Regions from separate parts of the Homo sapiens genome. Here region 1 is linked to region 2. Evidence: fine-mapped expression QTL. A gene starts in region 2. The other region holds a variant in brackets. All regions are shown on one strand. Distances are between the middles of the regions.

Region 1 (15,829 bases), 120 kb after region 2:
AGGGTGGGCTGCAGGGGAGTTTGTCTCCGAGTCCTTCTGTGCAAACCGTGGGAAGGAAGACTGTTTTTCCTTGAATATGCAAAAAGAAAGCAGCAGTCCTTATGCTGGCCCAGAACTGCCGGTTGAGAGAAAAGTGAATTTCCATTTCCAGAAGTAGGGCTACAGGCAAGGGGGGGCTACGGGCCAGGTTCTCACTGGCCTATGCTGGGCACGGCGGTGCAGGACACTGAGTGGGAGGAGACTCCTGGACCCCAGGAATGTCACCTTGTTTGGCGCCCTCCTTCTCATTTCCACTTCACAGATAAGGAAACGGAGGCCAGCTGGGAGGAGGCACTTTCCCTTGCCGAGGCCCAGAGCTAAAGGTGGCAGATGGGGGCTGTAGCCCCGGAGCCCACAAGGACACCTGGGGCCTCAAAAATGAGGCCTGGGATGGCTGATCTGCTGGGGGAACAGAGGGAAAGGCTTTAGATCTGGGCATGGAGAGGGACCGAGGCTGGCCTGTGTGGGCTCGTTCTACCGGATGAGGAAGGCAGGTGTCCCAGGCTCAGGTGGTGGGCGGGGCAGGTGTGGCTGGGAGCCAGGGTGCTCTCTGGAGGTGCAGCCAGAGATCCAAGGTCAACCCTGGAGGGACAGGCAGTTCCTGGTTTTTTCTAAACATTAGCTTCGAAACTTCCAGAGTTAACACGCCGGAATCGTGTTGCATATTATTGAGCTTCCAGTCTGGGGTGCTGCGTGGACCACGTTGAATGCCCAGGGACTCCGTTGGGCAGATAGAGGGGTGTCAGGAGCATGGAGTCAGCCCGGCTGGCCTGCAAACTGCAGATGCTGGAAGGCCCGTCAGGTGGGACCTCCCGTCACCAAGCAGATCTTAACAGGCCTCTGCTTCTTGGTGGAATGTTCTGGTACATTGGCAGGATGCACTGGGAAAAGCTACCATCCTCAGGCCATGTCCCCCACACAGTGTCATTTTCCTCCATTTCTGAACACTTCTCTCTCACCTCCCTGTCAAGATATACCTTGCTGGGACCGGGCATCCTGGAGTTCCCTGCTTGGCAGAAGCCCAGAAAGGCCCAGATAAACGCTGCCCCTTGGAGCCACCAACACCAGAGGGACAGAAGTGGGGGCTAAAAAAGAACTTAAGGCCAGGTGCAGTGGCTCATGCCTGTAATCCCAGCACTTTGGGAGGCTGAGGCGGGCAGATGACTTGAGGGCAGGAGTTTGAGGCTAGCCTGGGCAACATGGCAAAATCCCATCTCTACTAAAAATACAAAAATTAGCCACGCATGGTGGCTCATGCCTGTAGGAGGCTGAGGTGGGAGGATCGCTTGAGCCCTGGAGGCCAAGGCCGCAATAAGCCATGATTGCACCACTGCATTTCAGCCCAGGTGACAGAGCAAGACTCTGTCTCTGAAAAAAAAAAAAAAAAAAAAAAAAAAAAGAACTTAAACCTCAGCATGGCAGAGCTGTGTGCAGACCCTTATAACTAACACACCGAATAACCATACCACGTTGTGAAACTAATTCCTCCTTTTCATTTGCAAGTAACTCTCCCCTCTGCCTTTTTTTTTTTTTACTGTTAGAAGCTTGCAGTGTATTTTTCTGCTCAGCCATGATTTTTTAAATTAGTATGTTAATAAATGTGTTGCCATGCTAAAATGAATCTGTTTGAAACGTACCTGCATGCAAACTATTCTAGGACAACTCAAGTTTTAGCTGCTCTGTGTGCGTTGTGTATGGGAGTCATCTGAAGTGTTTTTCCTGTGTTGTTCACAACCCGTTAAGCCCCTGGGATAAAGCTGATTAAAACTGGGATTCCCCAGGGTACCCCCGTCCAGCCTGTTAGCCAAGTTACAAGCTTTTCTCAGAGAAGCGCCCCGGGCTTGTGCCCACCAGCATTCTGCTCTGTCCGGGTGAGTAACTCATATTTCTTTCTTTCTCCTTTTTTTTTTCTCCTAAACTTTCCAGGTAAAAGTACACCTGTAAGCCAGCTTGGTTCCGCAGACTTTCCCGAGGCCCCCGATCCATTCCAGCCACTCGGGGCTGACAGCGGCGACCCGTTCCAAAGTAAAAAGGGGTTTGGGGACCCGTTTAGTGGAAAAGACCCATTTGTCCCCTCCTCTGCAGCTAAACCTTCTAAGGCCTCTGCCTCGGGCTTTGCAGACTTCACCTCTGTAAGTTGAGTCCTCCGCCTCCGGGCCACCCCACTCCCTTCCGCTTGCAGCTTCCCTGGGATTTTTGTCTCCTTTTAAAGGCAAACCTCCCAGCTTCTTTAGCCTCTTGGTACCTCACACTCTCTGTCCCTCGCGTTATTTATTCTACACTGCCACTTCTGTAAGAAAAACAGTTTCTCAATAAAAAAAAAAAGAGCCGCAGTTTGGATGCTCTATCATAAGGGCACGTTTTCTTCCAGCAGGGAGGCGGGACCTATCTGTCCTTCACGGTAGATTCATTGTATTATTTCTGACGCACCGAGGCTGTTGTGTTCACTGGTTTTTGGAAGCCAAGATGTCAAACACTTCCGAAGTATGAAAAGAAGATTGCGAAAGTTACATTAGGGTTCTGCTGTCCCCAAAAAGCCCTTTGTGCACAAGTTCTCACAGTCCCGCCCCATGCATTTTGTGCCACAAGTGCAAATTGAAGGACTTCAGGCAGATCGCGCCAGGGAAGAGCAATTTGAAGTTTTTTTTTTTTAAAGCTTTTAAATTTCAGTTACCAGCTCCAATGAAAAAAGAAATCCAGTCTAGAACAGCCACTCTGAAAGCCAAAACAAAAAGAGCTCCAAAAAACTGTTGAGCAAAGTTAAGTGCCTTTTCGGAAGCAAATCTCGGGATTTCGAAAGCCTGGCTTTGTTTTTCTCTGTGTGAAAAAATATTCCAGATTGTAACATGCCGTCGCTTCAAGGAGTTTTTAGCAGCTTCCTTGATACATGAAAATCTTGTTCTCTGAAAGCTTCAGGTGTTGTCTTCCCAGAATTGGTTTCACTATGTGTGATGCCCTCGCTTTCTTCCTTTGGGCTTGTTAGTTCCTTCATCATTAGGTGTGAGATGTGTTATTTATAGATGCTTCGACTCCTGGGATGGCTCTTTGAACACAGCCCTGCCATGTCAATGCACAGAAAGCACCCGATTTGTTTCTGAGCCGTCTTGATAATCTCTACCGTGCACAGCTATCCTATGGCTTATTTGTCAATTTATTTATTTTAGTGACAGGGTCTCGCTGTGTTGCCCAGCCTGGTCTGCATTGGCGCGATCAGAGCTCACTTGTAACCTCGAATTCCTGGGCTCAAGCGATCCTCCTGTCTTGGCCTCCTGAGTAGCTGGGACGACAGGCGTGCAACACCACGCAAGGCTAATGTTTAATTTTTTTTTTTTGTAGAGGTAGGGTCTTGCTGTGTTGCCTGGGCTGGTCTGGAACTCCTGGCCTCAAGCGATCCTCCCACCTTGAAGTACTGGGGTTACACGTGACTGGCCCATGTGGCTTATTTAAATCGCCCAAGACCCTGACCTGTTTCTGGCTCTTGGTGACCTATAAATATTTTACAACGGCAGTGAGTTTGATTTTGTTGACCCTAGATGCGCACTGGGGGTCTATACAAAATGGTGACATTGTTAATAAAAGCCAGAAACAAAACCTGCTTTATCTAGAGTTTCTTGAATAGCCCTTCATTTATTTTCTGGTGGAAAAATATTAAACGCTGATTTAAAAAAAACAGAACTCTTCACACATGACTCAGGTACTCTGTCTTGGGTAGGGAAGAGTTAGGTAAGTGGGGTGAACGGCAGCTTGAAGAAATGACTGTTCTCTTTCTGAAATTCATAATTCTATTTCCTGTGACCCCAACCCGCAAAGGGCTCGTTTTTTCGAAAAGCATAAAAAAAAAAAAAACACCCAAGGTTTCAAGGTATCATTTGGCTTAGCATTTCTGGTAGTTCCAGAACAATTGTTAACTTCAGTTTTAAAATAGCGCCAGCCATTTTATCACCCTCATCTCCTGGTGGGAAAGCAAATTCCACCCAGGCCTGGATGCAGCCCTGTTGTTTTCTGTTTTTTTTTTTTTTTTCCCTAAGTTTTTGGTTTTTACATATTTGGAGATGAGTCTCGCTCTGTTGCCCAGGCTAGAATGCAGTGGTGCAGTCACAGCTTCACTGCAGCCTTGACCTCCTGGGCTCAAGCAATCGTCCCACCTCAGCCTCCCACGTAGCTGGGACCTCAGGCGCGCACCACCACATCTGGCTAATTTTAAAATGTTCTGATAGAGACAAGGTCTCACTTTACTACCCAGTCTGGTCTTTGAACTCTGGGCTCAAATGATCCTTCTGCCTCAGGCTCCCAAAGTGTTGGGATTACAGGCATGAGCCCCTGTGCCCGGCCTGTTTTCTGTTTAAAATCACTTTTCCCACTGCAAATACCCCAGTTTTTTTCCAGAGGAAATGATCAGATAGTGTACTTCAGCCACTCTGAAGGGATGGGTTGAGTGAAGACAGGACCCTTAATTGTTTTTGTTTGTCCCCTTGGGTCGTATCATTGTCTAAAATCATCCATAACCAGCTCTCCTCTGGGGACTCAAGATGACGTCTCTCCATGTTCACGGCATTCGGGGGCTCAGCCGATCAGCTGGTGGTTTCTGGGTTCACTGGATCTTGACTATTTGTGCTAACTTAGAAGAGGGCACAGCTGCTTCCTCTGGTTTGAATGATTCCACTTCCCTGAGCAAATGCCAAGAGGGCTGTCTGACTGCCCGGCAGATTGGCAGCGTGACTCTTTCAGCGTGGACGTTCTGAGACTGCTGTTCAGGGCATGTTTTTACCTGTGCAGGAGCAGCCCAGTCCATGCTGGCAGTCAGGGGGGCCCAGGTCACCCGCACCTCACTTGTGGAGGTGGTGCCCCGGCGGTGCCTCTCCAGAACCCTCTAATTTACAAACCCCAAATTTCCATCAATGGGTTATTTGCGTGTGTGGCTGTTCCCGGGAAACCTCTTCCCTCTCTGGTATTTCTTTAAAAGCAGGCCTTTCTGTCTCAGGCAAATGTGTGTATTAGGAAGTGGCATTTCTAGGTTAGCGGAACGGTTCTTTTGGAAGTTCGCATTAAGAGTAGTGCAAATACCAGATCAGCTAGGCCGTGCTTCGAATTATTGAAGGAGTTGGATACAATTTCATTGTCGGTAAATGAATGAATGGGAAGTGGCTAGGCATGTCCTGCACATGGTGGGGTGGAAGTGCCATCAGACACCTTGGAGCGCCAGTGAGGACAGGTGCCGGGCGCCTCCCGGGGCCATCCCATCGCCCAGCGTGCCGAGCTGTCTAAACTGCGGATTTCCAAGAGGCTGCTGAAATGAACCACTTATTTGCTTCTGAAAATGAACCCCATCCTGAGTGGGCAGGCCTCGGCTAGGGTGGTGTCATGCCCCTACGGTGTCTCGGTTCCATGGTAATGCCAGAGGGAAGCAGAAATCAGAGCCAGTGTGTTTCCCAGCCACTATTGGTTTTGCATCGGCCACAGACATCCAGATTCTGGCCCGTGTGACCCACCCAGATACGAGAACTAGAAGGTGGCCCCGTCCAGGGCTAAGACAGCAGACACAGAGGGAGCTGCGGAGTCCCCTTTCAGGAGAGCTCTCCCAGGCCTCACAGCCCAGCGTGCCTCCTAAGTGCATACAGACCTCACCAATGCAAGTCTCCACAGTGGATTCGTGAGCTGGCCTTGAACCGGTCGACTCTGAAGGCACCAGGAACTTTCCTGCTGACACCTTTCATTTGGAAACACAGACCCGTCAAGGGAAGGCGCTTCAGTGACACTGTGACACGGGGGCTCAGTGGGGCCAAAGGCGGCCAGAGGGCTGTGGTTCAGACCCAGCAGGCCGGTTACTTGGTCGTTCCAGGCTTTGATTTGGATCCAGGCGAACATTACTGTCAGCTCCCACCCACCCTGTCCTCAAGGCTGGTGGAGGGTGAGGTCCCCGTCAGCTGCACTGTCTCCCTCCCACTGTTGTCAGCAGCACCATGGAATAATTTCCACCTGCACTTGTTGGTTTTTCCTTGTTTTTCTCCCCATGAGGTGTTGGAAAATTCCCCAAACTGGGGCGGGGGGGATGCTTATCTGTGCCCCTGGCAGTGACACAATGGCGGGGAGGGAGTCCGACCTGGAGACTCATCAGACCCCCAAGTGTTTAGCTGGGCAGTGCCTCTTTAAGAAGTCAAGACTCAGCCCTTCCTCCCAGGGACATCTTTTCTTGATACTGACACTCCGCCTGTCCCCCATCTGGGTCCTGAGGCCAGCTAGAGGGAGGCCTCCAGGGCCCCGCATCCCCCTCACTGCCACATCTGCCTCCCAACCAGGTTCCTTGCATTTATCTGCTCCTGCACCTTGCCCAGTCCCCCCAGCCCTGCCATCTGGCCCTCCTCTCTCCTGCTTCCCGCTCATGCCACCATCAAGCCGTGAAATATCCAGACGCTGCCAATCTGATCACCCAACTCGCTCGCCCAAGGAGCCTCCACGGGGAAATCCCAGCTCCTTCCTGGGGCCCACGAGCCCCTCCTCAGTCTGGCTTATCCCACCCCACGCTTCATCCTGGCTACCCCAAGGTCGGGCACTGAGCCTCACACCCAGAACCTCGCAGGGACGCATCCTCCCTGTCAGTTTCACCTAGTATCCTGCTCCCCACAGGCCTGGGGGGGAAAAAGTCTAGAGTGTGAGCCACCCCTTCCCTGGCCTCAGTGTCCCCAGCTGTCAGAGGGATGAGATGACAGCGGGCCCACCCCCAGGTTGTCACGCAGACCTAGTGCTGCGTGTGGTGGAGAGGCCGTGAGTGTTCCTGTGTGCTTCTTTCCCCCACCTTCCTGGGTTAGTCTGCAGGGCCCTCCTCGAGAGCCTGGGTCCTTGGGTCCTGGATCGTTCTGGGATTGTTTGTATATTTCTGCTCCCAAGGGTGCCTGGGGAAGAGCCACTGCGCATGTTATCTTTGGTGTTACTCCAGTGTTGAGCAGAGAGCTGGTCAGAGGCAGTGCAT[C/T]GCAGAGAGACATTAATAAGGGAATCCTTTGAATCCCTAAGCAGCAGCAGCTTTCCTGAGGGGGCCGATGATGCCAGTGACCTCTCAGGGAAGTCTGGGACATTGGGACCCACCCTGGGGGAGGAGCTTGTGGGATGTGGCTTTTCTTTTCATGACTAAAGTACTTTGAGTTGTTTGAAATCACCTATCTCAGCATCAAGATGGTTTTCTCCCTTTTTTAAGTTTTTATTTTAACTGAACATTTTAGAAAAACACCCCACGGATAAAAACTTGACTAAATGGCAGTGTAAGTGCCACACCTTTTGTCAGTGTTCTGGGAGAAATTGACCCTCAGAGCCGGGTGCGGTGGCTCACGCCTGTAATCCCAGCACTTTGGGAGGCTGAGGCGGGTGGATCACAAGGTCAGGAGTTCAAGACCAGCCTGACCAACATGGTGAAACCCCGTCTCTACGAAACATACAAAAATTAGCTGGGCATGGTAGCGCATGCCTGTAATCCCAGCTACTCAGGGGGCTGAGGCAAGAGAATCCCTTGAACCTGGGAGGTGAATGTTGCAATGAGCCGAGATCGCGCCATTGCACTCCAGCCTGGCGACAGAGCGAGACTCCATCTCAAAAAAAAAAAAAGAAAAAGAAAAAGAAAATGACCCTCAGAGGGTCTCAGAGCTCTCTGGAGCATGGCTGGAGGTAGAAATACCACATTCCCAGAGTGCAGAATTGTCTGCGCCGTGGGGCTTTAGAGCCATGCACGCTGGAAGTTCCCCATCTTTGCACCTCTTGGCCACCAGCGTCAAGGGCCCATCCTCACTTCTCTGCGTGGGGCGGGGTGGCTGGTTTCTTTGAGGCCCAGAGGTCATGGTTAAGGTCACACTCAATCACATGCATCCCGTCCACTCTGCTTTCCAGATGGGGGGCCTGAGACAGGCTCGCACGCCCACTGGGCCCAGCCAAGACATGCTTATCCCCTGCACATCGGACCCTCCGCTGGGCGGTGGGCAGGACCCTGACCCCTCCCACGCATTCCCTGCCTCCCTCCAGCTTGCAGGTCCCAGCCCCAGGGCCACATCACCCACTCTCCGTTTTTCCTTTGCAGTTTGGCAATGAGGAGCAGCAGCTGGCGTGGGCCAAGCGGGAGAGCGAGAAGGCGGAACAGGAGAGGCTGGCGCGGCTGCGGCGGCAGGAGCAGGAGGACCTGGAACTGGCCATCGCGCTCAGCAAGGCTGACATGCCTGCCGCCTAGGCGAGGGCCGTGTGTAGGCGGGACAGGGCACGGGCGGGTTCCAGAGAGGGGGCAGTGCAGATGTCTATATATACACACACACACCGTCGCCACCGTACTCCAAGGACCGGGACTCGGGGGCTTGTTCAGGGTGAGCAGACTCGGCTGCAAGACCTGGAAAGGTCACATCTCCTGGGGAAGCCCTTACAGAGGCCTTGGCCACCACTTCTGCAGGTCCGTCTCTCCACTGTGCCATCCCCCCCGGGGCTGACTGCCTCCCGCTCTTCCTCTGGGGACGAACACACAGCGGTCAGTCGAGGAGAGGAAGCACCCAGGGCTTCCCCGCCTCCTCCCTACTCATAGCTGCAGACATCCCCACCCGCCCTCCCACGCATCAGTCAGACACTCCCCCAGTGGTGTATGCACTCGTTGTATAAAATGAAGTTTGAATGATTAATATAAAATATTTTAATACAAAACAAGAGAAGCTTCTTTAATCTCTGTAAACATTGTTTTCCCTGCATGGGTATCAGGAAGCAGATCAACCAGGTGGAACATTGCTCTTTAAATCTTAAGTTTTTACTTTTAAAAAAAATTTTTTTTTAAGAGATGAGATCTTGCCATGTTGCCCAGGCTGGTCTCAAACTCCTTGACTCACACAATTCTCCTGTCTCAGCATCCCAAAGTGCTGGGATTACAGGCGTGAGCCACCAAGCCCTGCCCATTTTTATGTTTTAACCAACTTTATTTTTTAGGACAGTTTTAAACCTGCAGAAAAATCACAAAGATACAAAGAGTTCCCATAAGCCCCTTAGACAATTTATCCTTAAAAAAAATTTTTTTTTGAAACAGGGTCTGAGCTCTGTCACCCAGGGTGGAGTGCAGTGGTGTGATCTCAGCTCACTGCAACCTCCACTTCCCCGGGCTCAAGTGATCCTCCCACTTCAGCCTCCCAAAGGGCTGGGATTACAGACATGTGCCACTGTGCCTGGCCAGTTTTAAATTTGCAGAAAGATCGCAAAGAAAATACGAAGGGTTCCCATAAGCCCCTTAGAGAGTTTACCTTATTTTTAACATCTTACATTACACATTACTTACATCCCAATTAATGAACCAATACGGATTCATTATTATTAACTAGAGTCCTTACTTTATTCAGAATTGCTCTGTTTTTTTGGCTGAGTGCGGTGGCTCATGCCTGTAATTCCAGCACTTTGGGAGGCCGAGGTGGGGGGGATCACTTGAGGTCAGGAGTTGGGGACCAGCCTGGCCAACATAGTGAAACCCTGTCTCTACTAAAAAAAAACAACACAAAAATTAGCCGCGCGTGGTGGTGCGCACTTGTAATCCCAGCTACTCGAGAGGCTGAGGCAGGAGAATCACTTGAAACTCAGGAGGTGGAGTTGCAGTGAGCCAATATCATGCCATTGCACTCTGGCCCAGGCGACAAGAAAGACACCGTCTAAAAAAAAAAATGCAGGTAGGGCACGGTGGCTCACACCTGTAATCCCAGCCATTTGGGAGGCCGAGGCAGGTGGATCATTTGAGGTCAGGAGTTCAAGACCAGCCTGGCCAACATGGTGAAACCCCGTCTCTACTAAAAATACACAAAAAATAGCCGGGTGGTAGTGGAGCATGCCTGTAATCCCAGCTACTCGGGAGACTGACGCAGGAGAATCGCTTGAACCTGGGAGGTGGAGGTTGTGGTGGGCCAAGATCGCACCTCTGCACTCCAGTCTGGGCCACAGAGTAAGACCCTGTCAAAAAAAAAAAATTCGTTTTTCCCCCTAATGTCCTTTTTCTGTCCCAGGATCCCCCATGACATTCAGACCTTACATCTCGTTAGAATTCTCTGGGCTGGGTGGAACCCCGTCTCTACTAAAAATAGAAAAATTAGCCGGGCGCAGTGGCAGGCGCTTGTAATCCCAGCTACTCAGGAGGCTGAGGCAGGAGAATCGCTGGAACCCGGGGGGCAGAGGTTGCAGTGAGCCGAGATCACACCGCTGCACTCCAGCCTGGGCGACAGAGTGAGACTCTTGTCTCAAGGAAAAAAAAAAGAATTCTCTGGGCTGTGTGAGTTTCTCAAACGTTGTGTGTTTTTGATGACAGTTACAAGGAGAACTGGTCAGGTGCTTTGTAGAATGTCCCTCCACTGGGATTTGTCTGATGTTTTTCCCGTGACTAGATGTGGAGCTGGACTTGGGGGAGGAAGACCACAGAGATGAAGTGTATTGACATCAAATCACATCAAAGATCCATGTCATCAACATGACTTAGAAGGCTGGTGTTGACCTGGATCCACTGGACATAGATTTATTTTTATTTATTATTTTATTTTATTTTGGGACAGAGTTTCACTCTTGTCACCCAAGCTGGAGTACAATGGTGTGATCTCAGCTCGCTGCAGCCTCCACCTCCCAAGTTCAAGCAATTCTCCTGTCTCAGCCTCCCAAGTAGCTGGAATTACAGGCATTAGGCAACATGCCTGGCTAATTTTTTGTATTTTTAGTAGAGATGGGGTTTTGCCATGTTGGCCAGGCTAGTCTCAAACTCCTGGCCTCAGGTAGATTTATTTTTAAAAAGCAGTTTTTCAGCCTCAGATATTTTGTTACATAGACTCGTCTCAGGGCAGTAATTCATGAGATTGAAAATACAGGGCCGGGCGTGGTGGCTAACGCCTGTAATCCCAGCACTTTGGGAGGCCAAGGCAGGTGGATCAAGAGGTCAGGAGATTGAGACCATCCTGGCCAACACAGTGAAACCCCGTCTCTACTAAAAATACAAAAATTAGCTGGGCATGGTAGTGGGCACCTGTAATCCCAGCTACTCGGGAGGCTGAGGCAGGAGAGTGGCTTGAACCCGGGAGGCAGAAGTTGCAATGAGCCGAGATCGTGCCACTGCACTCCAACCTGGTGACAGAGCAAGACTCTGTCTCAAAAAAAAAAAAAAAAAAAAAAAAAAGGCCAGGAGCAGTGGCTCATGCCTGTAATCCCAGCACTTTGGGAGGCCGAGGTGGGAGGATAACTTGAGGCCAGGAATTCGAGACCAGCCTGGCCAATGTGGTGAAACCCCATCTCTACTAAAAATACAAAAAATTAGCCAGGCGTGGTGACAGGCACCTGTAATCCCAGCTACTCAGGAGGCTGAGACAAGGAGGATCGCTTGAACCTGGGAGGCAGAGGTTGCAGTGAGCCAAGATCGTGCCACTGCAGTCTAGCCTGGGCAACAGAGCGAGACTCCATCTCCAAAAACAAAAAAAGAAAATCCTCAGGAAAAGGAAGAGAAAAAATATTGGCCATCCATTAAGTGGAAGTGGATCATCATAAAGGTCTTCTTCCTCATCATCTTCCCATTGAGTAACCCGAGGAGGAGGAGGAGGAAGGGTTGGTCTTGGGGTGGCAGAGGTGGAAGAAAATCCACATACAGGCAGGGCACAGTGGCTCATGCCTGTAATTCCAGCACTTCAGGAGGCTGAGGCGAGTGGATCACCTGAGGTCAGGAGTTCGAGACCAGCCTGGCCAACATGGTAAAACCCCGTCTCTACTAAAAATACAAAAATTAGCTGGGTGTCGTGGCAGATGCCTGTAATCCTAGCTATTAGGGAGGCTGAGGCAGGAGAGTCACTTGAACCCGGGAGGCGGAGGTTGCAGTGGGCTGAGATCGCACCACTGCACTCCAGCCTGGGCAACAAGAGTGAGACTCGGGCTCAAAACAAAGAAAATCCACATATGACTGAACCCACCCAGTTCAAACCTGTGTTGTTCAAGGGTCATCTATAAACCATAAACTGAAGTTTATGGTGGATTTGGGCGAATGTAAAGATTCCAAACCTTTGGTAATCCCCCTTTTCCAGGTTACAGACCCTCGAGGGGTCCCTGCAGTCCTGGAGATGAGGGTGTTGGGAGGGGACGTCTTCTTGGTGCCCATGGAATGGGCCTGCTTTGTGGATTGGGGCCTGGTGGGGCCTCGTGGGCTTTGTAACCTCTGAGATGCCCCTAATCTTCTCTGCAAAAACGAGCAGCTTCCTGAAAGTGGTCATGGCCGGAGGCAATTCCCAATACTTCCTTCCTCCTGCAGGAAAACCCCAGAGTGAATCTGAAGGTCCCAAGCCATGTGCTTCTGCCGTGATAGATCCCTTTGGAGAAGGCGCTGAGTCACCTCTCTCCAGGGTAGTCACAGCTTTGGCACCATTTGGTTTGGGACTTCACAATTTTCACAGCGATTCAGCTTCCATTATCTTGTTGGAAACTCAAAGCAACCTTGTAAATGAAGAGGGTGGATGTTAGCCCATTTTCCTGAGGGAAAACTGAGACTCATTCCCTGCAGTCATTTGCCCAGAGCTCCGAAGCCAGCCAGGGGCGGAGGCTCGTTTTGCTGATTTGAGAAAAGAATTGAGGGTTTCTTAGAAAACTTCAGGGTTTCTAGTTTCTTGTTGTCTTCTGCTTATTTGCATATTCACCGTACCCAGAAGAGGCAGGTGATGGCTCTTGATATCTTAGAAATGGAAAACCATGTATTGAATTAGGAGCTCTTACCCAGGGGAGGGGACGTTTTTAGGGAAAGCAGTGAACCCCTGAATGCACATTTGCTGGTTTTTTGTTTTTGTTCTTTTTTTTTTTTTTTTTTTTTTGAATCGGAGTCTTGCTTTGTCACCAGGCTGGAGTGCAGTGGCGTGATCTCAGCTCACTGCAACCTCTACCTCCTGGGTTCAAGTGATTCTCCTGCCTCAGCCTCCCAAGTAGCTGGGACTACAGGCACACGCCGCCATGCCTGGCTAATTTTTGTATTTTTATTAGAGATGAGGTTTCACCATGTTGGCTAGGATGGTCTCGATCTCTTGACCTCGTGATTCGCCTGCTTCAGACTCCCAAAGTGCTGGGATTACAGGCATGAGCCACCGCACCCAGCCCTGGTTTGTTTTTTATTGTATGTGGGTTTGCAGTGTTCATAACTTTTTATCTTTTTTTTTCCCCTTTTTTAAGAGATGGGGGTCTCGCTCTCTCACCCAGGCTGGAGTGCATGGCGCAATCATAGCCCACTGCAGCCTTGAACTCCTGGGCTCAAGTGATCCTCCTGCCTCAGCCTCCTGAGTAGCTGACCACATCCGGCTAATTTTTTTTTTTTTTTTTTTTTTTTTTTTTTTTGAGACGGAGTCTCGCTCTGTCACCCAGTCTGGAGGGCAGTGGCACGATCTCGGCTCACTGCAAGCTCCGCCTCCCGGGTTCACGCCATTCTCCTGCCTCAGCCTCCTGAGTAGCTGGGACTACAGGCGCCCGCCACCACGCCCAGCAAATTTTTTTGTATTTTTAGTAGAGACGGGGTTTCACCGTGTTAGCCAGGATGGTCTCGATCTACTGACCTCTTGATCTGCCCACCTCAGCCTCCCAAAGTGCTGGGATTACAGGCATGAGCCACCGTGCCCGGCCCTGGCTAATTTTTTTTAATTTTTATTTTATTTTTATTTTTATAGAAACAGGGTCTCACTATGTTGGCCAGGCTGATCTCCAACTCCTGGCCCCAAGTGACCCTCCCGCTTCGGCCTCCCAAAGTGCTGCTGATGACAGGTGTGAGCCACTGTGCCCAGCCTCCATCTGATTTTTAAAGAGGTCCTCAGACCCTTTAAAAAGTTAGAAGCCAGTCTCAAATCCTGTTTCCTTCCTTCCCTGCTACACACACACACACACACACACACACTCCCCTGCTGTGTAAATAATCAACATCAAATCCACAAATCCATCCCCTCTCCCATTGGCAGTCTCTTCCACGGCAAAGGACACTCACGCCCTTTCCTGAAGAATAGAGTATCCAATTGGAACAAATGTATGATGAAAATTTCCAAACATAATAGTTGAAGAGAAAAGGACAGTAAACACCCCCACCCAGCGTCAACTGTCATCCAGATTTTCCACCTTTGCCGCATGGCTGTCTTCCTTTGCTCTGGAGAAGCACTTTAGAGCAAGTTGGAGTCAGGATGCCATTTCGCCCACGTGCCCTGAAGCGCACGTCACTGAGACGTGTGGCGACTGACATGCTAACGTATACTCGATGCCAAGGTCACGTCTGAGAAAATGAACAATGACCCCTCCTAGCCATCAGATCTTTCACATAAGAGGCAACTTTTGATTGTTTTTTTTCAAATGGTTTCTTTCTCTCTCTCTCTCTCTTTTTTTTTTTTTTTTTTTTTGAGATGGAGCCTTGCTCTGTCTCCAGGCTGGAGTGCAGTGGCGCGATCTCAGCTCACTGCAACCTCCACCTCCTGGGTTCAAGCGATTCCCCTGCCTCAGCCTCCCAAATAGCTGGGATTACAGGCACCTGCCACCATGCCCGGCTAATTTTTTGTATTTTAGTAGAGATGGGGTTTCACCATGTTGGCCAAGATGGTCTCGATCTCCTGACCTCGTGATCTGCCTGCCTTGGCCTCCCAAAGTGCTGGGATTAGAGGCGTGAGCCACCGCGCCCTGCCTCTTTTTTTTTTTTTTGAGACAGAGTCTCTCTCTTGTCACCCAGGCTGGAGTGCAGTGGCGCAATCTCCGCTCACTGTAACCTCTGCCTCCTGGGTTCAAGTGATTCTCCTGCCTTGGCCTCCCAAGTAGCTGGGATTACAGGCACCCGCCACCATGCCTGGCTAATTTTTATACTTTTAGTAGAGACGGGGTTTCACTGTGTTGGCCAGGCTGGTCTCGAACTCCCAACCTCAGGTGATCCACCCGCCTTGGCCTCCCAAAGTGCTGGGATTACAAGCGTGAGCCACCGCCCCCGGCCCCTTTTCAAGTAGTTTCGATCTAGGGTTGGTTGAATCAGCAGATACAGAAACCTCCAATACAGCAGACAAGAGGCAACTTTCATTTTATTTTTGTTTCTTTATTTTTAGAGAAAGGGCCTTACTCTGTCACCCAGGCTGAAGTGCGGTGGTTGCGATCATAGTTCACTGCATCCTCAACCTCCTGGGCTCAAGTGATCCTCCCACCTCAGCCTCCCAAGTAGCTGGGACTACAGGTGTGCACCACCATGCCCAGGTAATTAAATTTTTTTTTTGTAGAGATGGGGTCTCGCTATGTTGCCCAGGCTGGTCTCAAACTCCTGGCCTAAAGCAATCCTCCAGCCTCAGCCTCCCAAAGTGCTGGGATGACAGGGGTGAGCCGACACACCCATCCGAAAGAGGCAACTTTTTTTTTTTTTCTTTTAGAGGCAGAGTCTCGCTCTGTCAGCCAGCCTGGAGTGCAGTGGCATGATCTCAGCTCACTGCAGCCTTCACATCCTGGGTACAAGCGATTCTCCTGCCTTAGCCTCTTGAGCTGGAACTACAGGCACATACCACCATGCCCGGGTAATTTCTGTATTTTTTGGTAGAGATGGAGTTTTGCCATATTGCCCAGGCTGGTCTCGAACTCCTGACCTCAGGTGATCCACCTGCCTCAGCCTCCCGAAGTGCTGGGATTACAGGCGTGAGCCACCACACCTGGTCGCAAGAGGCAACTTTTGACTGCAACCCCATTGCGTTTTGTCTCCCAGATTGTAACGAGCCGTGTCCTCTTTGTGGGTACCCTTTATCTTCTCCGCATCCAACAACCCAGTTTGGACTGGTGTTCAACTGGAATTCAAGGG
Region 2 (15,829 bases):
GTCTAGCTCTGTCACCCAGGCTGTAATGTAGTGGCATAGTCTCGGCTCACTGCAACCTCCACCTCCCGGGTTCAAGCGATTCTCCTGCCTCAGACTCCCAAGTAGCTGGGACTACAGGCGCATGCCACCACGTCCGGCTAATTTGTGTATTTTTAGTAGAGAGGGGGTTTCACCATATTGTTCAGGCTGGTCTCGAAGTCCTGACCTCAGGTGATCCACCTGCCTTGGCCTCCCAAAGTGCTGGGATTACAGGAGTGAGCCACTGTGCCTGGCCCCATGTAAGGTTAATATTGGCAGGTTCCAGGGATTAGGACATGAATTTTTTTTTTTTTTTTTTTTTTTTGAGACGGAGTCTCGCTCTGTCGCCAGGCTGAAGTACAGTGGCGTGATCTCGGCGCACTGCAACCTCCACCTCCCGGTTCAAGCGATTCTCCTGCCTCAGCCTCCCGAGTAGCTGGGACTACAGGCACCTGCCACCACACCCAACTAATTTTTGTATTTTTAGTAGAGACGGGGTTTCACCATATTGGCCAGGATGGTCTCGCTCTCTTGACCTCATGATCTGCCTGCCTCGGCCTCCCAAAGTGCTGGGATTACAGGTGTGAGCCACCGCGCCCAGCCAGGACATGCAATCTTTACAGGTTCTTCTTATTCAGCCTATCCTAGGTGGTGAGGAGGCTTCTAGAAGGCAGGGTCTGCCTGAGTACTGACATGCATTTGGCCACATGGAAGCATAACCCCTGGCCTCTGGGGCTTTTTTTGTTTTGTTTTGTTTTGTTTTGTTTTGAGACGGGTTTTGCTCTGTCACCCAGGCTGGAGTGCAGTGGTGCCATCTCGACTCACTGCAACCTCCGCCTCCTAGGTTCAAATGATCCTCTCACCTCAGCCTCCCGAGCAGCTGGGACTACAGCCACACACCACCACGCCCAGCTAATTTTTGCTTTTTTTTTTTTTTTGAGACAGAGTCTTGCTCTGTCGCCCAGGATGGAGTGCAGTAGAGTGATCTCAGCTCACTGCAAGCTCTGCCTCCCAGGTTTAGGCCATTCTCCTGCCTCAGCCTCCCGAGTAGCTGGGACTACAGGCGCCCACCACCACGCCTGGCTTTTTTTTTTTTGTATTTTTGGTAGAGACTGTGTTTCACCGTGTTAGCCGGGATGGTCTCGATCTCCTGACTTCGTGATCCATCTGCCTCGGCCTCCCAAAGTGCTGGGATTACAGGCACGAGCCATCGCACCCGGTGGGGCTTATGTTTTTTCTTTCTTTCTCCAGGGTCCAGAAAGGGAGATGGATGCCATACAGGCCAAGGAGGAAATGAAGAAGGCCCGCGAGGAAGAGGAGGAAGAGCTGCTGTCGGGAAAAATTAACAGGCACGAACATTACTTCAATCAATTTCACAGAAGGAATGAACTTTAGTGATCCCCATTGGATATAAGGATGACTGGTAAAATCTCATTGCTACTTTAATCTATGTTTCAAACTCAAATGTCTACATGGCACTTTGTCCAATTTTCTTTGAACAGTGTTTCATGCTTCTGGGTGGGGTAGGTTGTATCTCCCCTGGTGACCCCCTTGCACTGAGAAGTTCCCTCTTGACAATTTTACACACTGGAAGCCAGAGGCCAGCAAGGGTCTGGCCAAAACCATGATCCCCTTTTCTTAACTCCCAAAAGTCTTTTTATAAAATAAAAGTTGACCAGGCAGTGTGCCTCACGCCTATAATCCCATCACTTTGGGAGGCTGAGGTGGGCGGATCACTTGAGCCCAGAGTTCAAGACCAGCCTGGCCAACACAGTGAAAACCCGTCTCTACTAAAAATACAAAAAGGAGCTGGATGTGGTGGTGCGCACCTGTAGTCCCAGGTACTTCAGGCTGAGGCTGGAGGCAGCCTCAACCTCCTGAGTAGCTGGGACTACAGGCGCCCGCCACCACACCCGGTTAACTTTTTGTATTTTAAGTAGAGATGGGGTTTCACTGTGTTAGCCAGGATGGTCTTGATCTCTTGACCTCGTGATCCGCCTGCCTTGGTCTCCCAAAGTGCTGGGATTATAGGCATGAACCACTGCAGCCAGCCATATTTTTTGTTTTTTAATTTAATTTTTATAGGGATGGGAGTCTCACATGTTGCCCAGGCTGGTCCTGAACTCCTGGACTCAAGCCATCCTCCCACCTTGGCCTCTCAAAGCTCTGGGCTTACAGGTGTGAGCCACTGCTCCTGGCCCAGTCTTCTTCTGGAAGAGGCCCATAATCATACTGAAACTCATGATGAAAATAATCAAATTTGTGACACCAGAAATTTGGAATCTAGTGATGTTATGAATAAGCCAAATAAATTGGAATTTATATACAGAATATTGAGAGTTGACCAGTGTGGGCCGGGTGCAGTAGCTCACACCTGTAATCCCAGCACTTTGGGAGACTGAGGTGTGTAAATTGCTTGAGTCCAGGAGTTCAAGACCAGCCTGGGCAATGTGGCGAAACTCTGCCTCTACAAAAAATACTAAAAATTAGCTGGGTTTGGCGGTGCACACCCGTGGTCCCAGCTATTCGGGAGGCTGAGATGGGAGGATCACCTGAGCTTGGGAGGTGGAGATTGCAGTGAGCTGAGATTGTGCCACTGCACTCCAGCCTGTGTGACAGAATGAGACCCTACCTCAGAAAAAAAAAAAAAAAAAAGAGAAAGAAAGAAGAAAAGAAAAAAAAGAAAGTTGATCAGTTTCAAAAGCCTGGCTGGGAAGTGAAGTTCTGCAGAATTTTGCTCTCACTCTGGTCAATGTTGGCAGACCTTTGCACCTGGATTTTTTCTGATGGTGGCTACATCAACCTTCACCAATTATTAGGGATTGATTATTACTCTGAGAAACTAAAGACTCCCTTCCTCCTAATGCAAGGGTGGCAAACATTGCCTACCTCTTTCACCTCTGAACAGGGTGAGTAGTGTGAAAAGAATCAGAGGCAGACCTGGAGAGAAAGTGCTGGTACCAATTAGTGTACAAAGGTGAGTCAGGCCAGGTGTAGTGGCTTGTGCCTGTAATCCCAGCTATCTGGGGGGTCAAGGAGGGAGGGTCACTTAAGACCAGGAGTTTGAGACCAGCTTGGGCAACATAGAGACCTTGTCTCTAAAAAAAATTTTTTTTGTAATTAGCTGGGCATGGAGGTACATGACTGTGGTCCCAGCTACTTGGGAGGCTGAGATGGGAGGATCGCTTGAGTCCAAGAGGTCAAGGCTGCAGTGGGCTATGATCGTGCCACTGCACTCCAGCCTGAGTGACAGAGCGAGACCCCCTCTCTAAAAATAAAATAAAGTGGAGCTAACAAGACAAAAAACGGTGAGTGAGACTGGCTCAGGCTCTGAAGATTCGTTGGGAGCAGCGTTGTCCGAGAGAATTTGTCACATGTTGCTTTTTTTGTTTGTTTGTTTTTGAGACAGAATCTTGCTCTGTTGCCCAGGCTGGAGTTCAGTGGCGCAAGTATGGCTCACTGCAACCTCTGCCTCCTGGGTTCAAGCGATTCTCATGCCTTAGCCTCCCAAGTAGCTGGGATTACAGGCATGCGCCATGCCCATCTGAATTTTGTATTTTTAGTAGAGATGGGGTTTCGCCATGTTGGCCAGGCTGGTCTGGAACTCCTGACCTCAAGTGATCTGCGTGCCTCAGCCTCCCAAAGTGCTGGGATCACAGGCGTGAGCTACCATGCCGGGTCACGTGTTGCTATTGAGCTCTTGAAATGTGGCTAGTGGGACCAAGAAATGACTTTTTAATCTTATTTCATTCTAGTTAACTTCACTTTAAACTTTGTTAGAGGAAAAACTCTGGACATATTAAATTTCATGGAGTGTAACTGAGCAAAGAACAATTCATAAATCAGGTAGCTGCCAGAGCAACTCCATCTTGAATAGGGGCTTAGTAAAATAAGGCTGAGACCTACTGGGCTGCATTCCCAGGCGGTTAAGGCATTCTTAGCCACATGATGAGATAGGAGGTCAGCACTAAAGACCTTGCTGATAAAACAGGTTGCAGTAAAGAAGCCGGCTAAAACCCACCAAAACCAAGATAGTGATGGGAGTGACCTCTGGTGGTCCTCACTGCTACACTCCCACCAGCGCCATGGCAGTTTACAAAGGTCATGGCAACATCAGGAAGTTACTGTATATGGCAGCCTGAAAAGGGGGCCGGGCGCGGTGGCTCACGCCTGTAATCCCAGCACTTTGGAAGGCTGAGATGGGTGGATCACGAGGTCAGGAGATCGAGACCATCCTGGCTAACACAGTGAAACCCTGTCTCTACTAAAAATACAAAAAAATTAGCCGGGCGTGGTGGTGGGTGCCTGTAGTCTCAACTACTCGGGAGGCTGAGGCAGGAGAATGGCGTGAACCCGGGAGGCGGAGCTTGCAGTGAGCCGAGATCGCGCCACTGCACTCCAGCCTGGGTGACAGAGCGAGACTCCGTCTCAAAAAATAAATAAATAAATACATAAATAAGTAAAAAGGGAAGGCATGAATAATCCACCCCTTGTCTAGCATATCATCAAGAAATAACCATAAAAATGAGCAACCTGGCCAGGCACAGTGGCTCAAGCCTGTAATTCCAGCACTTTGAGAGGCCGAGGCAGGCGGATCACTTGAGGTTGGGAGTTCAAGACCAGCCTAACCAACATGGAGAAACCCCACATCTACTAAAAATACAAAATTAGCTGGGCGTGGTGGTGCATGTCTCTAATCCCAGCTATTCAGGAGGCTGAGGCAGGAGAACCACTTGAACCCAGGAGGTGGAGGTTGTGGTGAGCTGAGATCCCGTCATTGCACTCCAGCCCTGGCAACAACAGTGAAACTTCTCCCAAAAAAAAAAAGCAACCAGCAGCCCTTGGGGCTGCTCTATGAAGTAGCCATTCCTTTATTCCTTTACTTTCCTAATAAACTTGCTTTCACTTTACTGTATGGACTCGCACTAATTCTTTCTTGGGTGAGATCCAAGAACCCTCTCGGGGTCTGGATCAAGACCCCTTTGCGGTAACAGTACAAAGGGTCTGATTGTGAGAAGTGGCAGGGATCACTGGAACTCCACTTCAGATCCCATCTGGATCATCAAAACATCAACCCTAAATAAATAAATTCAGGAAATATGGTTAAATATAGAGTTTAGTTTAGCACAAAAGTTTGAGGACGGCCACCCTGGAACACAGATTCCAAAGAATGGAAATCAGCATTCCAAACTGAGGAAGTTTGGGGGTCATTTATATAGGTAAGGTTTGGGAAGCTTGACAGCGTTTCTACATATTTCACACAAGGCAAGTACATAGTTAACAGTAATCTGATTAGTCAAGGCAGTGGTCTTTTTGGGAAGGGTATATTTAACATTCACATAGAGGACATAACAGTCACAGGACCTTTTGCACTATCTGGTCTGATTTAGGTGCAAGATAATAGAGGAAAGGTCAGCAATGAAGAAGGGCGATCTTAACGCTGATGCCATTTAGTCTTGAAATGAATCTACAGAGCAAGAACAGGAGAGTTAATCTATAATCTATAAGCAGAAGTTGTAGTTACATGCTGTCTGGCTCAGATCACACAGTCCCGTTTTCTTCAAGGCTCAACATAATTCTTAGGGTTCAAAAGTGTATGATTAAGTTTGGATTTTTTTTTTTTTTTTTGAGACGAAGTTTCTGTGTTGCCCAGGCTGGAGTGCAGTGGCGCGATCTCGGCTCACTGCAAGACCCGCCTCCTGAGTTCATGCCATTCTCCTGCCTCAGCCTCACAAGTAGCTGGGACTACAGGCACCCCCCACCATGCCCGGCTAAATTTTCGTATTTTTAGTAGAGATGGGGTTTCACCATGTTGGCCAGGATGGTCTCGATCTCCTGACCTCATGATCTGCCTGCCTCGGCCTTCCAAAGTGTTGGGATTTCAGGCGTGAGCCACCATGCCCGGCCTTTTTTTTTTTCTTTTTTTTCTTCTGAGACGGAGTTTTGCTCTTGTTGCCCAGGCTGGAGTGCAATGGTGCGATCTTGGCTCACTGCAACCTCCCCATCCCAGGTTCAAGCAATTCTCCTGCCTCAGCCTCCCGAGTAGCTGGGATTACAGGCACCCGCCACCACGCCTGGCTAATTCTTGTATTTTTAGTAGAGATGGGGTTTCACTGTGTTGGCCAGGCTGGTCTCGAATTCCTGACCTCGTGAACTGCCTGCCTCGGCCCTCCAAAGGGCTGGAATTACAGGTGTGGGCCACCGCGCCCAGCCAAGTTTGGATTATTTTTACAAGATGATGCTGGAGAGTTTCTATGGCCACCACCATTCTAGACTCTGATACTGGCACTTAAAGCCTGCATGCTACATTTCCTGGACGCCGTTGCCAATTGGCAACGTTCCTGTCATGCTTTATTAGAACAAAGTTGGGAGGCAGAAAGAGGGGAGAAACCATTTTTTCAGACTTCTGCCAGTGGCTTAGGTGGTGGTGACAACAACAACTGTGACTTTCGCAATCATGGTGGAGGCAACTGTGGCTAGCAAGGGTGAACACATCTGGGATCCTTCTGTAGGCACAGTGATTGTGGGTTATGGGTCCTCCTGTGCTTTATTTATTTATTTATTTTGAGACGGAGTTTCGCTCTTGTTGCCCAAACTGGAGTGCAGTGGCGTGATCTCAGCTCACTGCAACCTCCGCCTCCCAGGTTCAAGTGATTCTCCTGCCTCAGCCTCCCGAGTAGCTGGGATTACAGGTGCCCACCACCACAACCGGCTAATTTTTGTATTTTTAGTAGACACGGGATTTCATCATGTTGGCCAGGCTGGTCTCAAACTTCTGACCTCAGGTGATCCATCCACCTCGGCCTCCCAAAGTGCTGGGATTACAGGCGTGAGCCACTATGCCCAGCCACCTCCCCTGCTTTAATCTTTCAGCTCTAGAGAGGCTAGCAGCCTCATATAGTTATGAATCTTTAGGTAAACTTACCTTCCTCTTTTGTTCTTCCAGTACTTCCAACACTTTTATACTCAGTCCCCTGTAGTCGTTTATGTATTCATTTATTTTTATTTATTTATTTTTTAGACAGAGTCTCGCTCTGTCACCTAGGTTGGAGTGCAATGGTGAGTTCTCAGCTTATTGCAACCTTCCCCTCCCAGGTTCAAGCAATTCTCCTGCCTCAGCCTCCTGAGTAGCTGGGATTACAGGCACCTGCCACTGCACTGGGTTAATTTTTGTATTTTTAGTAAAGATGGGGTTTCTCCATGTTGGCCAGGCTGGTATCAATCTACCTGTCTCAACTGGATTGCTGGGATTACAAGTGTGAGCCACAGAGCCTGGCTCAATCCCCTGTATTCAATATCCTCTGTTTGAAGTACCTAGAAGGACTTCTCTTTTCCTTATGGAATACGTACTGATAAAGCACTCAAGACTGTTAAAAACCTTCATTACTCTATTGATGTAACAAAAGAAGCTGAGGCAAAGTTAATATAAGTAGAGAGTTTGGGCCAAGGTTGAGGACCGCAGTCCAGGAGACACAGATTCAAGTTGCCCTGAATGTATGCTTTGATTAGCAACAGTTACAAGTGGGTTCTTTTTGTTTTTGACTTTGTTTTGAGACAGAGTCTCACTCTGTCACCCAGGCTGGAGTGCAGTGGTGCAATCTTGGCTCACCGCAACCTCCACCTCCCGGGTTCAAGTGATTCTCTGGCCTCAGCCTCCTGAGTAGCTGGGACTACAGGCATGCACCACCACACCTGCTAATTTTTGTATTTTTTTTAGTAGAGATGGGGTTTCACCATATTGATGTTTCACCATACTGGCCAGGCTGGTCTCCAACTCCTGACCTCATGACCCTCCCACCTCGGCCTCCCAAAGTGCTGGGATTACAGGTGTAAGCCACTGTACCTGGCAACAAGTGGGTTCTTGTCTTATTTATTTATTTATTTTTGAGACAGAGTTTCGCTTCTGTTGCCCAGGCTGGATTGCAATGGTGTGATCTTGGCTCACTGAAACCTCTGCTTCCTGGGCTCAAGCAATTCTCCTGCCTCAGTCTCCTGAGTAGCTTGGATTTCAGGTGCCCGCCACCACAGCCAGGAGGACGCCTTGCGGGGCAGGGTGAGGGGGGCAGGGTGCGGGTCCCCCAAATTAGCGCGCACACACACACACACACACACACACACACACTGCGATCCTAGGAACAGGGCGCTTTGCGGGGCAGGGTGAGGGTCCCGACCCTCCGCGGGGTGGGCGACCGCCTCCCCAGGCGCACTGGCAGGGGGACGGCATCCCTAACAGAGAACCAGGCCTCGGCATGGGCTGGAGGGATGACACAGCATGGTCGACTCGGACAGCGGCCAGCGGCATGAGAGTCCGAACAACGTTGGAAGGAGGAGTAGGGGAACGGGCAAGAGAGCACGGAAGACGCAGATGCCTCAGGCCCAGCCCCTCCAGGCTGCGTGTGGGCGGCCCCGCCCCTGCCCCCGCCCCTCCCGGCCTGACTGCACATGCGTGGCCCTGTCTACGGCCCCGCCCTCTCCCGGGACAGGCGGCCTGCGCACCGCCCTCCCGTCGTCCCAGTGCGCACGCGTGGCTGCAGCCCCGCCCCCGTTCCCCCGGCGCTCGGAGCCCGAGTCCGCGGGAAGATGGCGGCGCCGCTCATCCCCCTCTCCCAGCAGGTACGGGCCGGGCGGGCCTGGGGGCGGCGCCGGGGTGCGGGGCGCGAGGCGAGCGGTGCGGCGAGGCTGAGGCGCTGGGAGACTCAGCCAGGCGGCGGCGGGGGCGGCGCGTGCTGAAGGGCTTGCGGCGGGCGGGTGGGCAGGCGGCCCTGAAGGTGACAGGCCGGGACCCGCGGCCTCCCGTGCCCGAGCGACCCTCGCGGGCACCGGCGAGGCGAGGAGGTGCGCAGCGCGTGTCCTCTCCGCCCAGGGCCCGGACCCTGCCGCCGCTGAAGCTCCCAGGCCGGGGACCCGCGGAGGCGCTGGGCTGCATCCCGGAGGGGTGGGCGAGGGGTGCGAGCGTTTCTGTCGGCGCGGCGGCCCAGCGAGTCTTTGTCTCCCTCCGGTCCCGGCGCCCGGGCGGGCAGGGTCCCGCCGGAGCCCGGACCCGTCAGCAGCAGTGCGATCTCAGACTGATCCCCTGCCTCCTTGGAAGCTGCTTCCGCCACCCCTGCACCGGGCGCAGATCGTACGTCTCCGGGCGCCTCTCTGTGTCCTCAAATTCGCCTGATGCGCTTATGAAGGGGCAGTATCGATAGCGCGACACAGACATGCGAAAAAGAGCCATGCGTAGGCAGCTCTGTTATTTGGGAGAGACTTTCATTCATTCATTTTCTATCCATCCCTCAAATGTGCGTTGGGTCAGGTGCTGGGAGCGCTGCATTCTTCCAGACAGACAAGGTCGCTGCTTTCCTGGAGGTGACACTCGTGGGAACTAGAAACTACCTGTGTTATGCTAATCACAGCTGCCTTTATTTGCTGAATACCTGTGTTGTGCAAAGCACCATATAAGCATTTTGCTAGAATGATCTAGCACAGCATGGTGATTAAGAGTGAGGACACAGGGTCAGATCATGTGTTCAAATCTTGGCTCCAGCCCCGATTTCTCTGTGCCTTTGGTTGAAGCTCTTAGCCATTCCACCCATCAGTTGCTTCCTTTGGAAAATGGAGATATAAAAATGTGTTGGGATTATGTGAAAATTAAGCACGTGAAAAAGCGCTTAGAACAGTGCCTAGCATATGAGAGGCACTCAGTGATCCTATAATTACTGTCATCATTTAATCTCTGCCAGATTTGGACGTTTGGGAGTAGAGACCGCAGCAATTAAGAATTCCAAACCCAAAGAGAGTTGATAGGCCGGTTGCATGCTTGCATGACTGGTTAGCTGATCCAAGGAGAGAGAAGTGCACAGCTAGCCAATTTGCAACACTGTCACTAAGTTAACAGTGCTAAAACCCGGTGATTATTAATTAGCAAGTTCTTGTTACTGACATGAAAGTGCTCTGTAAACTGTTAAGTGTCCTACCGATAATAGGTGTTAATAGCTAAGTGCTACAGTTTAGAGTATGTAGTCAGGGGGTGGGGGGCGGGGAAGGCGGGAGTCGGGGGAAAATCACCTAAGATCATTTCATGAGAAAGCACTAAGCACTCCCAGTTTGGGAGGCGTGGATCTTTCTAAAACTTCCTGTCCAATTTTTTTTTTTTTGAGATGGAGTATTGCTCTGTCACCCAGGGTGGAGTGCAGTGGCATGATCTCAGCTCACTGTAACCTCCGCCTCCCGAGTTCAAGTGATTCTCCTGCCTCAGCCTCCTGAGTAGCTGGGACTACAGGCACGTGCTACCACACCCGGCTAATTTTTGTATTTTTTTTTTAGTGGAGACGGGGTTTCACCATTTTGGCGAGGCTCGTGTCAAACTCCTGAACTCGAGTGATCCACCCGCCTTGGCCTCCCAAAGTGCTGGGATTACAGGCGTTAGCCACTGCGCCTGGCCAGGTCACTGACTTCTTAGCCTCTTCCTGTTCCTTTCCCTATACATTTGTTGAATGAAGGCGTGGCCTGGTTTTCTTCGTTTGGAAATGTCAGCACTTCTTTACACTTGCTCTCGAGTGAAAATCTACACCATGGGTTACTGTTGGCCCAGGTGTGAGGCATGGCCCTCCCAGGCCCTTACTGTCTAGCTCAGGAGATCACTTGGGTTCACAGATAACTCTGGGGGAACCAAGGGTATAATTCCAAAATTTTTGGTTGGGGGCAAAAGGGAAGCACCCTGCAGCAGGTGGCTGTGATCTGGTTGGATTTAGGTGACAGAGCACACTTGGCAAGCAGATGGCCAGGTGAAGGTGAGCAAAGTGGATAACCCAGCGGGCTAGCCTAGGGGAGGAGGGGTGTGTTTTCTCCACCCCCACTCCTGTCTGCACTTTTCCCATCAGCATCTTTTTCAGTCTGTTCTGTACTCCATGACATCATCTCAGAATCTCCTTCCTTATATACTCTTTTCTGACCCTGAATATCAACGTAAATTCGAAAGGTCTGCACCTCTGCCTCTTTAGGAGTGATTTTTTTTTCCCAACAGCATCTCAGTGATTTGTGTGTCTCCCTGTCCCCCTGCTCAGCTCTCTTCTGCTTTCCAAAAAGCCTTCCGTGGAAATGCATCCAGATCTCTTTCCTCCTTGTACTCCCCGAGGTTACCGGTGGCCCCTCCGTCCTTAACCCCGGTGCCCTGTGGCTGCAGCCGATCCTCCTCGAACTCCGCAACACTGGAGCCCGTCGGTCTTCACTCTTCATCCTCTCTCCTTTCAGTCTCTCCTTCTTGTCCCCTAATTTCAGCCTCCCTACCTGCATCTTATCTCTCTGTGCGCTCCCTCCCCTGGAGCTTCTGTGCAGAGGACTTCAAACCTGCCTTCTAGAGTCCAGAAGGTGTCTCTCTCCTGCACCTCTGCCAGCCTGCTGGACTCTGGAATGGGCCATTTCCTTGCCATGCCCCAAAGTGGTCTGGGCCATTCTACTTCCTACTTGCCCACTCCCTCCCACTTAATCCCACGCCACTGTGGAAGTCATCTTTTTGATTTTTGAGACAGGGTCTCGCTCTGTCCCCCAGGCTGGAGTGCAGTGGTAGGATCATAGCTCACTGCAACCTCAAACTCCTGGGCTCAAGCAATTCTCCCACCTTGGCCTCTCAAGTAGCTGGGACTACAGGAGCGCAGCACCAATCATACCCAGCTAATTAAACAATTTTTTTTTTGAAGAGATGAAGTCTTGCTATGCTGCCTAGGCAGGTCTTAAACCCCTAGCCTCAAGCAATCCTTCTATCTCAGCCTCCTAAAGTATTGGAATTACGGTGTCAGCCACTGCATCTGGCTAGGATTCATCTTCTAAAACATATTCCCCTGTTCCAAAAACCTTTCACAGCTCCCATTCCCCTTCCTCCAAAAGAACTCAGTTTATGGCTGGGCGCTGTGGCTCATGCCTATAATCCCAGCACTTTAGGAGGCTGAGGTGGATGGATTGCTTGAGGCCAGGAGCTCGAGACCAGCCTGGCCAACATAGCAAAACCCTGTCTGTACTAAAAATACAAAAGTTAGCCAGGCATAGTGGCAAACGCCTATAATCCCAGCAACTTGGGAGGCTGAGGCACAAGAATCGCTTGAAACCAGGCGGCGGAGGTTGCAGTGAGCTGAGATCGCGCCACTGCACCCCAGCCTGGGCAACAGGGTGAGACTCAGTCTCAAAAAAAGTCAGCTTTGATGACCTTAGTAAGCCCTGAATCGACTCCACCTAACCTTGCTGGGTCCCTTTCCTGCACTTCTGGCTCTTGGCAACACTTTCTAGCCTCAGCATCCTTAGCTGTGTTGCTCCGGTTGCTAGAACATCACTGTGAGCTCCTGCCGTATGCTGCCTGCCCTGAAGGACGGTCTTTGAGGCCTCCCCTGTGTTGTCCTCCCTTAGCCCCACCCGAATGAGAGTTCTCTCCCTTGTACCTTCCGTGGGTCCCTTTTGTGACCGCTGTACCTAGGAAGCGCGTGGTAACTGGGCTCAGTGATGAGGAGAGACTGCCCTGGGCCCAAAGAGCTACACCTTCCTCCTTTCCCCCTTGTTATGTGTTCTTCATCCAGGAGCTTTTGCTGTATTTCAGTAGGTGCCTCCATTCTAGGAGGCTTTTATTCCCCTTTTACAAGTGAGGAAACCAAGACCCACAGAAATAGAGTAACTTGCTGAAGTCTCATAGTTGGTGGGCGCAGAGCTGAGGTCACACCTGCGTCCTCCTGCCGCAGAGCCCTGCTGTTCCAGATGGCCTGCTGGGCACCTCTCCCAGAGCAGCACCCGGCCAGTGTGTCTGGAATGAATGCTGAGTGGCTCGGACACTTACTTGTCCTCTTGTCCCTTGTTTCTTTTCTTCCTCTGAAATAAGTGCTAGTCTATCTTAGTAGAATGCTAATGGCAATGCAGTCTAAATTGATGAGAACGAAGTTTTAGAGTAAAATCCACTCCTGAAAGATCCAGAATTCCCTGACTGTCACTTATTGACCTGCACTGGCCTGTTTTTTTTTTGTTTTTGTTGTTGTTGTTGTTTTTTCGACTAAATAGATTCTCCCTGGGCAAGACCCCTCCACCTCCATTCTGAACTTTAAAACAACTTTCCAGGCCGGGTGCAGTGGCTGACGCCTGTAATCCTAGCACTTTGGGAGGCTGAGGCAGGTGGATCACCTGAGGTCAGGAGTTTGAGACCAGCCTGGCCAACATGGTGAAACCTCATCTCTACTAAAAATACAAAACATTAGCCTGGCGTCCTGGCGGACGCCTGTAATCCCGGCCACTCGGGACCCTGAGGCAGGAGAATCACTTGAACCCAGGAGGCGGAGGTTGCAGTGAGCCAAGATCACTCCACTGCACACTCCAGCCTGGGCAACAAAGTGACACTACGTCTCAAAAAAAAAAAAAAGAAAAGAAAAGCAGGCACCATCAGGTGCAGTGGTGCCTGCTTTTCAATGTTTAGGTCCTTAGATGTTTGTTTGGATTCCCAGATATTCCTTCACTGCCCTCAGTCCTGCAAATACTTTCTGTACCTTAGTTTTCTCATCTGCAGAATGGTACTGTGGACTCGCTTGACCTGCTTTGTCACAGTAGAGTGTCAGGACCCTGCCGTGTGACGCATGTGCTCTCAGTGCTTTCCTTTTTTTTTTTTTTTTGAGACAGAGTTTCACTCTTGTCACCCAGGATGGAGTGCAATGGCGCTGTCTTGGCTCACTGCAACCTCTGCCTCCTGGATTCAAGCGATTCTCCTGTCTCAGCCTCCTGAGTAGCTGGGATTACAGGCGCCCACTACCACACCCAGCTAATTTTTGTATTTTTAGTAGAGATGGAGTTTCACTATGTTGCCTAGGCTGGTCTCGAACTCCTGACCTCAAGTGATCTGTCTGCCTCAGCCTCCCAAAGTGCTGGGATTACAGGCAGGAGGCACCGCGCCTGGCCCTCATGCCTGCCTTTTGTAGATCACACTGTTCGTTCAGTGAGTATTTATTTGGCATCTTCTTTTTGCTGGACACTTTCTGGGCAGTGGATGGAACAGTGAATCTGAAGGCAGTGCCGCCTCACGGGGCTGACATCGTTGGGAGGGGCCCAGATATAAAGAAATGAGCCCAATGTGTAGTGCATTCGGTGGGGATTGATGCTGTGAGATGAGTAGAGCAGGGCAGGTTCCGATCTGATGATGGAGGTCAGGAAAGGTCTCACCACCAGGCTGGAAGGACTGAGTAAAGAAAACATCATAGATTGCCTGGTTCATCCTCCCGGTCACTCTGGCCAGTATTATCTTCAGTGTATAGGGGCAAGAGGGGCAGATCACTGGAGGCCAGGAAGGGCAGATCACTGGAGGTCGAGAGTTCAAGACCAGCCTGGCCAACATGCTGAAACCCTGTCTCTACTAAAATACAAAAATTAGCCAGGCGTGGTGGCACATGCCTGTAGTCCCAGCTCCTCAGGAGGCTGAGGCAGGAGAATTGCTTGGACCTGAGAGGTGGAGGTTGCAGTGAGCCGAGATTGCACCACTGTACTCCAGCCTGGGTGACAGAGCAAGACTCTGTCTCAAAAAAAAAAAAAAAAAAAATAGATAAAGTGAGGCCAGAGATTGTTACGTCCCTTGCCCAAGTTTGTACCCAGTGAGCTCAGGCAGACATGGCTTTTCTGACACAGGTTCAGGCCTCTTCATTGCACCATAGTTTCTTGTCTTGGAAAGTTATTTTTTTGTTTGTTTGTTTTTAAGTTTATGACATCTCCTAACCTCATTTGTTTTTATACCTAGTTATTAGATATCATGTAGTCTGAGTTTTTATTTTATTACTTTAATCTCATCTCATTAAAAGGTAGAGAGGGACATGGAAAGGCCTGCTTATTGTCTTCCTTTTTCCTTTAGAGACAGGCTCTTGCTCTATTGCCTACGCTGGAGTACAGTGGTGCAATCAAAGCTCATTGCAGCCTCGACTCTTGGCCTCAAGTGAGCCTCCCACCTCAGCCTCTCAAGGAACTGAGACTACAGGCATGCAACACCACACCTGGCTAATTTTTAATTTTTTTGTAGAGACAGGATCTTGCTATGTTGCCCAGGCTGGTTTCGAACTCCTGACCTCAAGTGATCCTCCTGCCTCTGCCTCCAAAGCGCTGAGATTACAGGTGTGAGCCACCACTCCCAGCCAGTTGTCTTTAGGAGAATCCAAAGGTTTCCCTGCCAGAGTGGTAATCAGTGCTCCTGGCCCATGCAGAATTGAGTTGTCCAGGCCCGGCCCACAGCAGAGGCTCAGGTCACGGGTGGTCCAAGCTGCAGGAGGGGCAGATGACTGGCTTCCATTTGGGTGTTGGACATGGTTGTATGGAGGAGAGGGCGTGTTTGGTGTAGGCCAAGCTTGTCCAACCCATGGCTGCATGTGGCCCAGGATGGCTTTGAATGCAGCCCAACACAAATTTGTAAACTTTCCTAAAACATTATGAGGTTTTCTTGTGAATTTTTTTTTTTTTTTTGAGACTAAGTCTCGCTCTGTTGCCCAGGCTGGAGTGCAGTGGTGCAATTTCGGCTCACTGCAAGCTCCGCCTCCTGGGTTCATGCCATTCTACTGCCTCAGCCTCCTGCGTAGCTGGGACTACAGGCACCCGCCACCACACCTGGCTAATTTTTTGTATTTTTAGTAGAGACGGGGTTTCACTGGTTAGGCAGGATGGTCTCGATCTGACCTTGTGATCTGCCCGCCTTGGCCTCCCAAAGTGCTGGGATTACAGGCGTGAGCCACCATGCCCACCCGTGAATTTTTTAAAGCTCATCAGCTATCATTAGTGTTAGTGTTAGTGTTAGTGTTAGTGTTAGTGTTAGTGTATTTTATGTGTGGCC

The links.
Region 1: its variant is fine-mapped to the expression of EPS15L1 in whole blood (TOPMed, PIP above 0.99).

The regions. Positions count from the first base shown.
Region 1 is chr19:16,348,121-16,363,949 of GRCh38, reverse strand. It overlaps EPS15L1 (epidermal growth factor receptor pathway substrate 15 like 1), which reads left to right. Exons shown (of 24, transcript NM_001258374.3): 23 at 1,966-2,171; 24 at 8,099-8,703. The coding sequence ends at 8,245. Among named protein-coding and RNA genes, the nearest start is that of KLF2, 31 kb to the right of the region's middle. The variant C/T (reference allele first, on the strand shown) is at 7,007.
Region 2 is chr19:16,464,715-16,480,543 of GRCh38, reverse strand. EPS15L1 (epidermal growth factor receptor pathway substrate 15 like 1) reads left to right here and starts at 8,574. Exons shown (of 24, transcript NM_001258374.3): 1 at 8,574-8,631. The coding sequence starts at 8,599. CALR3 (calreticulin 3) reads left to right here. Exons shown (of 9, transcript NM_145046.5): 9 at 1,270-1,483. The coding sequence ends at 1,413. RefSeq lists silencers at 8,343-8,742, 8,803-9,022 and enhancers at 9,103-9,252, 8,485-9,396, 14,944-15,829.